2 linked regions of the Homo sapiens genome follow. The protein of the gene in region 1 interacts with the protein of each later gene in a biochemical or structural test. Each region holds a gene or a part of one and is shown in the gene's direction. Other genes may lie near its edges.

What was found.
Region 2: the proteins of XPO5 (region 1) and ZNF346 form a complex in vitro, tested with the Homo sapiens proteins (one study listed by BioGRID).

Annotation. Positions count from the first base shown.
Region 1 is NC_000006.12:43,559,011-43,566,041, reverse strand, and holds part of XPO5 (exportin-5), read left to right. Parts: intron 1-305; coding exon 306-382; intron 383-3,634; exon of another isoform or gene 3,635-3,695; coding exon 3,696-3,795; exon of another isoform or gene 3,796-4,642; intron 4,643-5,034; coding exon 5,035-5,118; intron 5,119-5,738; coding exon 5,739-5,864; intron 5,865-7,031. UniProt on the Homo sapiens protein: Mediates the nuclear export of proteins bearing a double-stranded RNA binding domain (dsRBD) and double-stranded RNAs (cargos). XPO5 in the nucleus binds cooperatively to the RNA and to the GTPase Ran in its active GTP-bound form.
Region 2 is NC_000005.10:177,025,678-177,032,708, forward strand, and holds part of ZNF346 (zinc finger protein 346), read left to right. Parts: intron 1-7,031.

The DNA of each region.
Region 1 (7,031 bases):
CAGTTGTTCCGCCTGCCTCGTCCTCCCAAAGTGCTGGGATTACAGGCATGAGCCACCGCACTCGGCCTGCCGAACACATTTAAAAATGTAAGTTTATGCTTTTTCACTAAACTGATAGTTTTGAGAAAAAATATGTAGTTTATCCAGATTTGGTTTTAAAGAGTTGGGCTTCTTTCTAGTGTTTCACTAAACCCTGGGGTATATAAGAAATTATGAAGTCAATATATTTGATTATATACTTACAGAAGATGTCGGTACTTTGAAGTATAGTTTATATGACTATGTTTCCCTAAAATTGGGTCTAGGGCAAGTTGGAAGACCGGAAGCCCTTGATGGTCTTATTTGGAGATGTTGCCATGCATTATATACTCTCCGCCGCACAGTGAGTATCTTTACTTTTCAGTGTGTTTTCTAATTTCTTTGTCATTTTTCTATCTTATTTGGATTTATCTGAAGTTCTTTTTTTTTTTTTTATTTTGAGATGGATCTCGCTCTGTCACCCAGGCTGGAGTGCAGTGGCGCGATCTTGGCTCACCACAACCTCCGTCTCCTGGGATCAAGCGATTCTCCTGCCTCAGCCTCCCGAGTAGCTGGGATTACAGGCGCACCACCATGCCTGGCTAATTTTTCTATTTTTAGTAGAGACAGGGTTTTGCCGTGCTGACCGCTCTGGTCTCAAACTCTTGACCTCAGGTGGTCTACCTGCCTCAGCCTCCCAAAGTGCTGGGATTACAGGAGTGAGCCCCTGTGCCCACCTGAAGTTCTTACTTAAATGCTAGCTGTCAATCGACAGTGTTTTTGGATAAGAAAATGAGGCATTGGCCAGATGTGGTGGCTCACACCTGTAATTCCAGCACTTTGGGAGTCCAAGGCAAGTGGATCACTTGAGGCCAGGAGTTTGAGACCAGCCTGGCCAACACGGTGAAACCCCATCTCTACTAAAATACAAAAATTAGCCAGACCTGGTGGCGCACGCCTGTAATCCCAGCTACTCAGGAGGCTGAGGCAGGAGAGTATCTTGAACCTGGGAGGCAGAGGTTGCTGTGAGCTGAGATCACACCACTCTACTCCAGACTGGGCAACAAAGTGAGACTCTGTCTCAAAAAAAAAAAAAAAAGAGAGAAAATGAGGCAGTCATGGCTGAATGTGCTAGCTAACATTTGTAACCTCAGCACCTGGGGAGGCCAAGGCGGGAGGATTGATTGAGTCAGGAGTTTGAGACCAACCTGAGCAACATGGCAAGAGTCCATCTCTACAAAAAAATACAGAAATTAGTCGGGTGTGGTGGTATGTGTACTTGTAGTCCCAGCTACTCAGAAGGCTGAGGTGGGAGGGTCACTAGAGCTGGGAAGTCCAGGCAATCGTGAACCATGATCATGCCACTACACTCCAGCCTGGGCAACAGACTGAGACCTTGTCTCAAAAAAATAGTTTTTAAAAGTTTATAAAGTTAAAAAGTTACAGTAAGCTAAAGTTAATTCATTATTGAAGAAAGGAAGTTTTTTTTTTTTTGAGATGGAGTTTCGCTCTTATTGCCCAGGCTGGGGTGCAATGATGCGATCTCAGCTCACTGCAACCTCTGCCTCCCGGGTTCAAGCGATTCTCCTGCCTCACCCTCCCAGGAAGCTGGGATTACAGGCATGCACCACCATGGCCAGCTAATTTTGTATTTTTAGTAGAAACAGGGTTTCTCCCTGTTGGTCAGGCTGGTCTTGAATTCCTGATCTCAGGTGATCCACCCACCTCAGCCTCCCAAAGTACTGGGATTATAGGCATGAGCCACCGTGCCCGGCTGGAAAATTTTTTAAATAAATTTAGCGGGCCAGGTACGCTGGGTCATGCTTGTGATCACAGCACTTTAGGAGGCCAAGGCAGATGGACCACCTGAGGTCAGGAGTTCAAGACCAGCCTGGCCAACATGGTGAAACCCCATCTCTACTAAAAGTACAAAAATTAGCCGGGCGTGGTGGTGCATGTGTGTATTCTTAGCTACTTGGGAGGCTGAGGCAGGAGATCGCTTGAACCTGGGAGGCGAAAGTTGCAGTGAGCCAGGATTGTGCCCCTGCACTCCAGCTTAGGCAACAGAGTGAGACTCCATCTCTAAATAAATAAATAAGTTTAGTTTAGCCTAAGGGTACAGAATTTATAAAGTCTACAGTAGGGTCCAGTAATGTCCTAGGCTTCCACATTCACTCACCACTCACTCTGGACCCACCCAGTACAGTTTTCTGTCCTGCAGTCATTCATGGTAAGTGCCTTCTACAGGTATACCATCTTTTATCATTTATACCATATTTTTACTGTACCTTTTCTGTATTTAGATACACAAATACTTACCATTGTGTTACAGTTGCCTGCAGTATTGGCTACGGTAACATGCTATAGAGGTTTGTAGCCTAGGAGCAATAGGCTATGCTATATAGCCTAGATGTGTAATAGGCTATTCCTGTTGTGTAAGTTTGTGTAAGTACACTCTATCATGTTCAAATGGTGATAAAATCACTTAACGATGCATTTCTCAGTACACATCCCCAGTCGTTAAGTGATGCATGACTGTAAGGGCTTCCATGTACTTTCTTCCAGTTGCTCTAGAAAATACTAAAGCAAGGCCGGGCCCAATGGCTCATGCCTGTAATCCCCATATTTTGGGAGGCCAAGCCGTGAAGATTGCTTGGACCCAGAAGTTCAAGACCAGTCTGGGCAACATGGCAAGACCTCATCCCTACAAAAAATCAAAATGAAAATAAATTAGCTGCGTATGGTGGCATGCGCTTTATAGTCCCAGCTACTTGGGAGGCTGCAGTGAGAGGATCCCTTGAAGCCCATTAGTTTGAGGCTTCAGTGAGCCATATTTGAGCCACTGTACTCCAGCCTAGGTGTGACAGCGAGATCGTGTCTCAAAAAAAAAGAAAAAATATTAAAGCATTTCTTGATAACATGTTTCTTACCAGGAAGTCAGGCAGAACTATATATTATAAGTAGTTGAATCTGTTGCAACACCATCTTTTTGATACTCTTTACTTTTGGTCCCAAGGAGAAATGAAAAGGTATGAGGCACATGTGTTTTACTTAAAATCTCTTACTACCCATTCTAATACACATTTTTCATGGCTTCCTTCCCTGTAGAGACTGCAGCACTGTTTTAAGGGATCCTGTTAATTAAATGAATAACGTTTTTTGGGTAGTTACTATTTTTAGGTCCAATTCTTAGTTCCATAGACATCATGACACTCATACTAAGTGGTGTCCCGTTTCTGTTTGTGCTGTGGGTGCCATACCACAACCATGGTTCATAAAGCGGTGATTCCAACCCAGGTAGTCAAACTCCAGAGATTGCATTGGACACCATAATACCATCCTGTCCTTCAATGTTCCTAAAGCCTAGGCCTCGTTTACCCCAAGGTCCTTGCCTTTTATGTGATACTGTCCTCCTCCAGAAGACAGCTAATATAGTTGCTTTTCACACTCATAGTTATTAATTGCTGTTTGTGTGAATAGTCCTATATCATTTTAGGTCAGGTTTTGCCACCAAATAAGTTAAAAAGATTTTAAAAAATTTTTAATTTAGCAAAGCTATTGGAATTCTGCTGAATTACAGACCTAACTAAATGACTTGGAGAAATGAGACACAAAGTGATGTTTTTATTACAGCCTTTTTAATTTTGTTGGTGATATAAGGAATTCTCATCTTACAGGACTGCTGATGGAGGAGGTTTGGTAGAAAAACACTACGTCTTTCTGAAGAGGCTCTGTCAGGTGTTGTGTGCGCTGGGCAATCAGCTGTGTGCATTGCTGGTGAGCTAGTGTTTGCTTTCTGGAGAGCTTCAAGCCCATTTGGGAAGAGCATTTAGAAACTTATGTTTCAATGAGGGGTTGCAAATGTCATTGATTTTAGCCTGATGGGGCAGTGCCATACAAGTTATTGCATGATTCTATAGATTAAATTATCTTAATAGAATAGTGTTTGAGTGATCTAAATTTCTTTTAACAATAAAATAGTTATACCAACGTCAGATATCCACGTCTATTATTCCATAAAGTCAACGTTGGTTTCTTGTGAATTTTGGTACTTACAGAACCTCAATCTGCTGAGTGCTTTATGCTTTTACATTCTGTTAGCCCACGAAACATGGACTTGAATAAAGAACTCTTTTCCCAATCTAAGGGATGTATTATTGGAGCACAAAAGAAAACTTGAGTCTGATTGACCTGGAAAACCTGCCATTAGAGAAATATTTAATACTCAGTCTTATAAGTTGGAAGATAGGACATTGGAACAGACATTTGCAATTGATGTTATATCTTTTTGTGGTGGTTTAAATGGTTAGAGAGGATAGTTTCAGAGATAAGCAACCATTGAGGGGGCCAGGTGCAATGGCTCATGCCTGTAATCCCAGCATTTTGGGAGGGTGAGGTGGGCAGATCACCTGAGGTCAAGAGTTTGAGACTAGCCTGGCCAACATGGTGAAACCCTGTCTCTACTAAAAATACAAAAATTAGCCAGGCGTGGTGGTGCATGCCTGTTATCCCAGCTACTCGAGAGGCTGAGGCAGGAGAATTGCTTGAACCCTGGAGGTAGAGGTTGCAGTGAGCCGAGATCGTGCCACTGCTCTCCAGCCTGAGCAACAGAGTGAGACTCCATCTAAAAGAAAAAAAAAAGAAAAGAAACTATTGAAGGGATTAGGTAATAGGTTGGGACACAGAGATGTGAATAGGTAAGGTCTGAGGAAGTAATACAGATTTTTTTTCTTTCTGTAATTTCTGAAATGAGTGTTTTTTATTTTACTGTTTGACCACAGAATGGGTTTTAATGATGATGATTGAGTAGGCAAAGTAATGATGATGATTGAGTAGGCAAAGTAACCTATATTTTAGCCCTTGAAGTGATGCCTTTCTTTAGCCAAAAGGAAATACAAAGTCCTTTTGAAACAACATTTTTTGAGGGTTTAATTTATCTGTTTTTATTACTTCCCTGCTTTTTCCTCTCCTGCTTTTCTCGATCAACACCGTTAATATAGTGGTCTTCTCCTACAGGGTGCAGATTCTGATGTAGAAACACCATCAAACTTTGGAAAATACCTGGAATCTTTTCTTGCTTTCACAACCCATCCAAGTCAGGTAAACTTTATACAGGTAACTTCTCAAAAGTTTAGTTAGGTGAACCAATGTCAAGCACTGTGTCCTGAAATATTATTGTAGATCATGTATAAAATGTGACTCTTCAGGCCTTGGGGAATGACCGTAGTGTCATTTCATTAAGAGAATTATTGGCTCTTCTTCCTGAGCCAAACAGTGCACTTGTCTAGGTCAGCAGCTTTTCCCTTTAGGTAATATTCTGATTGTACTCAGTCACATGTGAGGTGTGTCCCAGGTGGTTTAGTACTAAAGTTATAAAGATTTTTGAAACAAAAGTCTGATTAATTGTATTATAAAATTAATTTCACTCTGTTCAAAATTGTCCTTCTAATATCACTCTGAGATTCCAGTATCCTTTTTTGCAAAGAAGAGAAAGTAGTAAAATTCAGCTCACATTCCAGGTAATTTCCTTGATCCACAGCCTGTCTTACTAACATGTGGTCCATAGTGGGTGGTCATTACTGATAAATTGCAGTAGAGACAGCTTCAAAGTATTGTACAGATTTATTTCTATGAAAAAATGTAGTTGATAACTGCTAAGTAATAATCTGGGTTATATAGAATCCAAATCCTTTGACGTTTTCTTTTTTTTTTCTCTTTAGTTTCTACGCTCTTCAACTCAGATGACTTGGGGAGCCCTCTTCAGGCATGAAATCCTGTCCCGTGATCCTTTGCTATTAGCAATAATACCAAAATATCTTCGTGCTTCCATGACTAACTTGGTCAAGGTATATAATGGGAATCTAAACATGTGGAATGTAGGTGAATACACATAATAAGACTTTGAGGCTGGGTGCGGTGGCTCACGCCTATAATCCCAGCTCTATGGAAGGCTGAGGCGGGAGGATCGCTTGAGCCCAGGAGTTGGAGACCAGCCTGTGCGACATGGCAAAACCTCGTCTCTACTAAAAATACAAAAAAATTAGCAGGGCATGTTGGTATGCACCTGTAGACCCAGCTACTGGGGAGGCTTAAGGTGGGAGGATCACCTGAGCTTGGGAAGTTGAAGCTGCATTGAGCTGAGATCGCAGCACTGCACTCCAGCCTAGGCAATGAGAGTGAGACCCTGTCTCGGGGGAAACATAAAAAAGACTGATTGGCATTATTAACAGCCCTTCTTCATCACTAAGATTCCTTTACTGGACATATTTTCTTATTCCTTAGGAAGAAATCAGTCCTTACTGGTTATTATAACTGCTCTTCCATATGAGAGTACTTAATATATCATAAGTATTGGGCTAGGTGCTAGGGCAAGAGCAGTGACCATACAATGTAATAATTGCTATTCAGGGGTTAAAAGCAGAATGCTTTGGAAGTACATAGGAGGGTTGAGTCAGGAAGATTCCAAGAGGAGGCAATATCTAAGCATTGCTTCTGGAGGCCAAGTGAGAGTTACAAAGGGAAATGAGGGGAGTGAGAGTGGAAGCAAAGATTGCTCACTACCTCAGTAGAGAGTTGCTCATGAATTCCCTGCTAAGAGCTCTTGCAGTTGACAGATTGTTAATCTCAATTTGTAACATCAGAGAATGGTGCACATTCAAGGGTCCCCTTATTTTCTTAAGGAATTTGCCTAGCACATAGCACACACTGGTGTTCTGTGTTTTTTTTTGAGACGGAGTCTCACCCTGTCACCGAGGCTGGAGTGCAGTGGCACGATCTTGGCTCACTGCAACCTCTGCCTCCTGGGTTCAAGCAATTCTCCTGCCTCAGCCTCCCAAGTAGCTGGGACTACAGGTGCCCACCACCACACTTGGCTAATTTTTTGTATTTTAGTAGAGACAGGGTTTTACTGTTTTTCCCAGGCTGGTCTCAAACTCCTGAGCTCAGGCAATCCACCCGCCTCGGCCTCCCAAAGTGCTGGGATTACAGGCGTGAGCCACCGCACCCGGCCACAC
Region 2 (7,031 bases), on another chromosome or scaffold:
GTGAAATATCTATTCACATCATTTGCCTATTTTGTAATTGGGCTGTTTGTCTTCTACTGAGTTGTAAGAGTTATCTGTGTATTCTGGGTACAAGTCTTTTATTATAGATATGATTTCCAGGTATTTCCCCCTGACTGTGACTTGTTTTTTCATTTTCTAAACAGTGCCTTTTGAAGCACAAAAGTTTTAAGTTTTGATGAGATTAAATTTATCATTTTTTATCCTATGTATTGTGCTTTAGTGTCATATCTAAGAACTCTTTATCTTAACCCAAGATTTGAGAAATTTTCTCTTGTAGATCTTCCTTATTATTATTATTATTTTTTTTTTTGAGATGCAGTCTCACCCTGTCACCCAGGCTGGAGTGCAGTGGCATGATCTCAGCTCACTGCAACCTTCGTCTCCCTGGTTCTCCTGGAGGAGGTCAAGCGATTCTCCTGCCTCAGCGTCCCGAGTAGCTGGGATTACAGGTGTTCACCACCACATCTGGCTAATTTTTGTATTTTTAGTAGAGATGGGGTTTCACCACGTTGGCCAGGCTGGTCTCAAACTCCTGACCTCAAGTGATCTGCCCCCTTCAGCCTCCCAAAGTGCTGGCATTACACGCGTGAGCTACCATGCCCAGCCCCTTCCTCATCTTGTTTCTGAAGGAGTTTGTGAAGGATGGATTGGTAATTTTTTTTTTTTTTTTTTTTTTTTTGAGACAGAATCCCACTCTATCGCCCAGGCTAGAGTGTGGTGGCACGATCTCAGCTCACTGCAGCCTCCCTGTCCCAGATTTAAGTGATTCTCCCGCCTCAGCCTCCTGAGTAGCTGGGATTACAGGAGGGTGCTACCACACCCAGCTAATTTTTTTGTATTTTTAGTAGAGACAGAGTTTCACCATGTTGGCCAGACTGGTCTTGAACTCCTGACCTCAGGTGATCCACCAGCCTTGGCCTCCCGAAGTGTTGGGATTACAGGTGTGAGCCACCACACTCAGTTGGTAATATTTCTTTTTACAGTATTTTATAGAAGTGTTGACCTGCAAGGAAGAGGCTAACACACAAAATATGATTTGAAGAGTTTACTTGATTTTTAAAGGCAAAAAAATGTGGACAGGGAGTGGGACTCATACAAAGTTGTTTATCAAGAATTCTCATTGATTTACAGAAATAACATTGGTTAGTGATTGGCTGTACATTAAGCTGTAGGATGTAGGATATAGCGTCAGGTAGGGCATTATTAGGTTAATCCTTACCCACTTGTGGCAATAGCAAGCAGTTTTGATAGATGAATCTTAGCTCAAAAAGGGAGAATAGGAAGTGATTGCTATCTCATTTTAATATCTCTCTGGGCCCTGATCATTTAAAAAAACTTGGATTCTTTAGATAAAAGTTATCTTCTTTTTTTTCAGACAGAGACTCACTCTTCCGCCCAGACTGGAGTGCAGTGGTGTGATCTCGGCTCACTGCAACCTTTGCCTCCCGGGTTCAAGCGATTCTCGTGCCTCAGCCTCTCAGGTAGCTGGGATTACAGGCGCCTGCCAGCACACCCAGCTAATTTTTGTATTTTTCGTAGAGACGGAGTTTCACCATGTTGGTCAGGCTGGTCTCAAACTCCTGACCTCAGGTGATCCGCCTCAGCCTCCCAAAGTGCTGGGATTACAGGGGTGAGCCATCACGCCCAGCCGATAAAAGTTATTTTCTGACCTGCCTGGGCAACGTGGAGAAACCCTGTAAATTTTTGTAAAATTTGTGTTTTTGTAAAAATACAAACATTAGCCAGGTGTGGTGGCTCACATCTGTAATCCCAGCTACTCAGGTGGCTGAGGCACGAGAATCGCTTGAACCCAGGAGGCTAAGGTTGCAGTGAGCCGAGATTGTGCCACTGCACTCCAGTCTAGGCAACACAGTTGAGACTTTGTCTCAAAAAAAAAAAAAAAAAAAAGTTATCACCAGTGAAGCTACCTGGGCCTAAGCTTTTCTTTCTTCCTTTCCTTTTTTTTTTTTTAAATTCTCTATTTATTTATTTAGAGACAGGGTCTCTGTTGCCCAGGCTAGAGTGCAGTGGCACAATCATAGCTCACTGCAGCCTCAGACTCCTTCAAACTCAAAGCTAGGACTGCAAGGGCATACCACCATGCCCAGCTAATTTTTGTGTTTTTTTAAATAGAGGGTCTTGCTCTGTTGCCCAGGCTGGTCTGAAACTCCTGGCCTCTAGTGATCCTCCTGCCTCAGCCTCCCAAAGGGTTAGGATTATAGGCAAGCATGCGCCATGGCACCCAGCTGGCTTCGGCTTTTCTTTGTGGAAAGGTATTTGATTATTCATTTTCTTTACTTGTTTTAAGTGTACACAGAATATTTTGTTTCTCCTTGTGTCACTTTTTTTTTTTTTTTTTTTTTTTTTTTTTTTTGAGACGGGGTCTTGCCAGGCTGGAGTGCAGTAATGATCACTGCAGCCTTCGCCTCCCAGGTTCAAGCAATTCTCCTGCCCCAGCCTCCCGAGTAGCTGGGATTACAGGCATGTGTCACCATGCCCGGCTAACTTTTTTGTATTTTTAGTAGAGACGGGGTTTCACTGTGTTGGCCAGGCTGGTCTTGAACTCCTCGAACTCTAAAGTGATCTGTCCGCCTCTGCTTTCCCAAAGCACTGGGATTACAGATGTGAGGTCCCTGATTATTTTCTTGGTTAGTCTAGCTAAGAATTTGTCATTTTCTTGATCTTTTCTAGTTTCTAAGGTAAGATCTTATGTTGCTGATTTGAGTGATTTGAGATCCTTCTTTTCTGATGTAGATGTTTAAAATTATAAATTTCTCTCTTAAGCACTTGTGACGTTTTATATATATATATATATATATATATTTCCCTCCATAGTTCCTGGCTCACAGCTTCTATAACCCTTGTACTTTCCTCAGTGACTAAAGCAGTAAGAGTATCTTCTGTTAAAATATTTGGCCTTTTGTCCTTGCTTCCTGAAACACCTCTGGAACTGCTCCAGAGCAAGAAAGGTGAAAAACAGACTTTTGTTATTTATAACAAGCCCCTTTCTTTTTTTTTTTTTTTTTTTTTTTTTTTTATGAGATGGAGTCTCGCTCTGTTGCCCAGGCTGGAGTGCAGTGGTGCGATCTCGGCTCACTGCAAGCTCCGCCTCCCAGGTTCATGCCATTCTCCTGCCCCAGCCTCCCAAGTAGCTGGGACTATAGGCGCCCACCACCACACCTGGCTAATTTTTTGTATTTTTAGTAGAGACGGGGTTTCACCATGTTAGCCAGGCTGATCTCGATTTCCTGACCTCGTAATCTGCCCTCCTCGGCCTCCCAAAGTGCTGGGATTACAGGCGTGAGCCACCGCACCCGGCCATATAACAAGCCCCTTTCAGCCACACCTTGGTACATGTTAATAGGGTGATTTTTGAGAAGTCCCTAGATTACCACATTCTGGTTGGCTGGTTGCCATAGGAACCAACCATGTGCTCAGAGGCTTGGAAGTTACAGCCCCCCATCTTGAGAGGGTAGAAAGGAGCTGAAGGTTGAATTGATCACCGATAGCCAGTGATTTAATCAACCATGCCTATGTAATGAAGCCTTCATAACAACCCAAAGACCTCAGTTTAGGGGCTTCCAGGAAGGTGAACAAGAACACATTCATGTGCTGGAAGTGTGGCACACCCCAATTCCATGGGGATAGACGCTCCTACACATTAGACCCTTCCAGACCTGGCCGTATGTATCTCTTTATCTATTTGTATCCTTTAACATATCTTTTAGGTTGGCCTGACCCAGTGGCTCCTGCCTGTAATTCCAAAACTTTGAGAGGCCAAGGCAAGAATGTTAGTGGCCATGAATCTCAATTTCTGCCTCCTCAGAAGAAAGAATTCAACCAAAGGGGCATAAGGCAAAGTGAGAGACCAAGGCAACTCTTAGAGCAAGAGTGAAAGTTTATTAAAAAGTTTTAGGGCAGGAATGAAAAGAAGTAAAGTATACTTGGAAGAGGACCAAGATGGCGACTTGAGAGAGACAAGTAGGCGGTTTGACCTTTGACTTGGGATCTTACACATTCACACGCTTGCTGGGTCTTGCGTGTTACTTCTCCCCTGGTTTTTCCCTGAGTTCTGTGAGCTGCTCTAGCAAATTAATTGAATCCAGGGGTGTCATGGAAACCTCGATTTATAGCCGGTTGGTCAGAAAAACAGGTGAAAGAATGTGGAACCTGCAATTGGCATCAGAAGTAGGGCTCAGTCTTGTAGGAATAAGCCCTCAACCTGTAGGATCTGAAGCTGTCTCCAGGTAGATAGTGTCAGAATTGATTTGAATTAGGGGACACCAACTGGTGTCCACTGCAGAATTGAGTGCTTGGTTTCTGGGAGGAGAAAACCCACACATATGGTCACAGAAGCGTTCTGTATTGTAAAAGTAAAGTAGGATAAACTGAGTTTTTTTTCTCCAGAGCACTGCTTTAGTTGCAACTCATAAATTTTTGAATGTTTTATTTTCACTTAAATCAGTTCAAAATAATTTCTAATTTCCCTTGTAAAATTTCTTCTTTGATACATGTTATTCAATTTCTAAATATTTGAGGATTTCCCAGATTTCTTCCTATTGTTGATTTCTGATTAAATTCCATTGCGTTCAAAGAATATACTTGAGATGAGTTCAGTCCTTTTAAATGTAGTGCAACTGGGCTGGGGGCGGTGGCTCACGCCTGTAATCCCAGCACTGGGAGGCCGAGGCGGGTGGATCATTTGAGGGCAGGAGTTCAAGACCAGCATGGCCAATATGGTGAAACCCCCATCTCTACTAAAATACAAAAATTAGCCGGGCATGGTGGTGCCGTGCCATGGGGTTTCACCGTGTTAGCCAGGATGGTCTCGATTTCCTGACCTCGTGATCCGCCCGCCTCAGCCTCCCAAAGTGCTGGGATTATAGGCGTGAGCCACCATGCCTGGCTATTTCATTTTTAAATAACAGCTTTATTGACGTAAATCTCACATTCCATAAAATTCACCTGTTTAAAATGTACAATTCTGTGGTTTTTAGTATATTCACAGAGTTCTGCAACCATCACCACTGTCTAATTTTAGAACATTTTCATCACCCCAATAAAGAAACCCTATACCTAGGAGCAATCATCCCTGGCAACGACTTATCTCCTCTCTTTATGGATTGATGCCTATTCTGGACATTTCATGTAAATAGAATTGTATAAATATGTGGCATTTTTGTGACTGGCTTCTTTCGCTTAGTGTAATTTTTTTTTTTTTTTTTTTTGGTTTTTTTTTGAGACGACATTTTGCTCTTGTTGCCCAGGCTGGAGTGCAATGGCATGATCTAGGCTCACTGCACCCTCTGCCTGTAGAGTTCAAGCGATTCTCTTTTTTCTGTTTTATTTTGTTTTGAGACAGAGTCTCGCTCTGTCGCCCAGGCTGGAGTGCAGTGGCGCGATCTCGGCTCACTGCATGCTCCGCCTCCTGGGTTCACGCCATTCTCCTGCCTCAGCCTCCCGAGTAGCTGGGATTACAGGCATGCGCCCCACAGCCAGCTAATTTTGTATTTTTAGTAGAGACAGGGTTTCTCCATGTTGGCAAGGCTAGTCTCAAACTCTCAACCTCAGGTGATCTGCCGCCTTGGCCTCCCAAAGTGCTGGGATTACAGGCATGAGCCACTGCGCCTGGACACTTAGTGTAATGTTTGCAGGATCATTTGGCTGGATATAGAATTCTTAGTTGACATTTTTATTCTTTTTCACCACTTTGAATATGTCATTCCAGTGCCTTCTGGCCTTAATTGTTTTCAAATAAGAAGTTGTCATTAATTGAATTATTTCACTGTACATGATGAGTCATTTTTCTCTCTCTCTCACCGCTTTCAGGATTTTCTGTCTTTGCCTTTCAACAGTTTGTGATGTGTCTAGGTGTAGCTCTCTTCACATTTTTCCTAGTTTGGGTTCCTTGAGATTTTGGAATGTGTAGATTAATGTTTTTCATCAAATATGGGAGGTTTTTGGACATTTTCTTCAAATATTTTTTTCTACTCTCTCTCTCTTCTCTCTTCTTCTGAGGCTCTCCTTACACATATGTTAGTATGCTTGAAGTTTTTCCATAATCTCTGAAGCTTTGTTCATTATTCTTCAATGTTATTTCTCTTTGTTCTTCAGATCAGCTATTTCTATTGCTGTATCTTCAAGTTCACTGATTCTTCTGCCATTTTGAACTTGCTGTTGAGCTCCTCCAGCAAATTTATTGTATTATAATTTCAACTCCAGAATTTCCATTTGTTTGTTTTATTAGTAGCAGATCATCAGTACCCTTACATTTGCTTTCTTCATGCCTTTTCTTTTTTCTTTTTTTTTTTTTTTTTTTTTTTTTTGAGATGGATTTTCACTCTTGTTGCCCAGGAGTGCAATGGCACAATCTCAGCTCACTGCAACCTCTGCCTCCAGATCCAAGCAATTCTCCTGCCTCAGCCTCCCGAGTAACTGGGATTATAGGTATGCGCCACCACACCTGGCTAATTTTTTGTGTTTTTAGTACAGATGGAGTTTCACTATGTTGGTCAGGCTGGTTTTGACCTCCTGACCTCAGGTAATCCACCCACCTTGGCCTCCTAAAGTGCTGGGATTACAGGCGTGAGCCACTGCACCCAGCCTTTTTTTGTTTTTGTTTTTGTTTTTAGACAGAGTCTTGCTCTGTCACCAGGCTAGAGTGCAGTGGCGCAGTCTTGGCATGCTGGGATTACAAGCATGAGCCACTGCACGCAGCTTTTTTTTTTTGAGACAGAGTTTCGCCCTTGTCACCCAGGCTGGAGTGCAATGGCACAATCTCAGTTCACTGCAACCTCCACCTCCTGGGTTCAAGCGATTCTCCTGCCTCAGCCTGCTGAGTTAGCTGGGATTACCAGCCCTCTACCACACCTGGCTAATTTTTGCACTTTTTAATAGAGATGGGGTTTTACCACGTTGGCCAGCCTGGTCTCAAACTCCTGACCTCAGGTGATCCGCCCGCCTCGGCCTCCCAAAATGCTGACATTACAGGTGTGAGCCACCATGCCCGG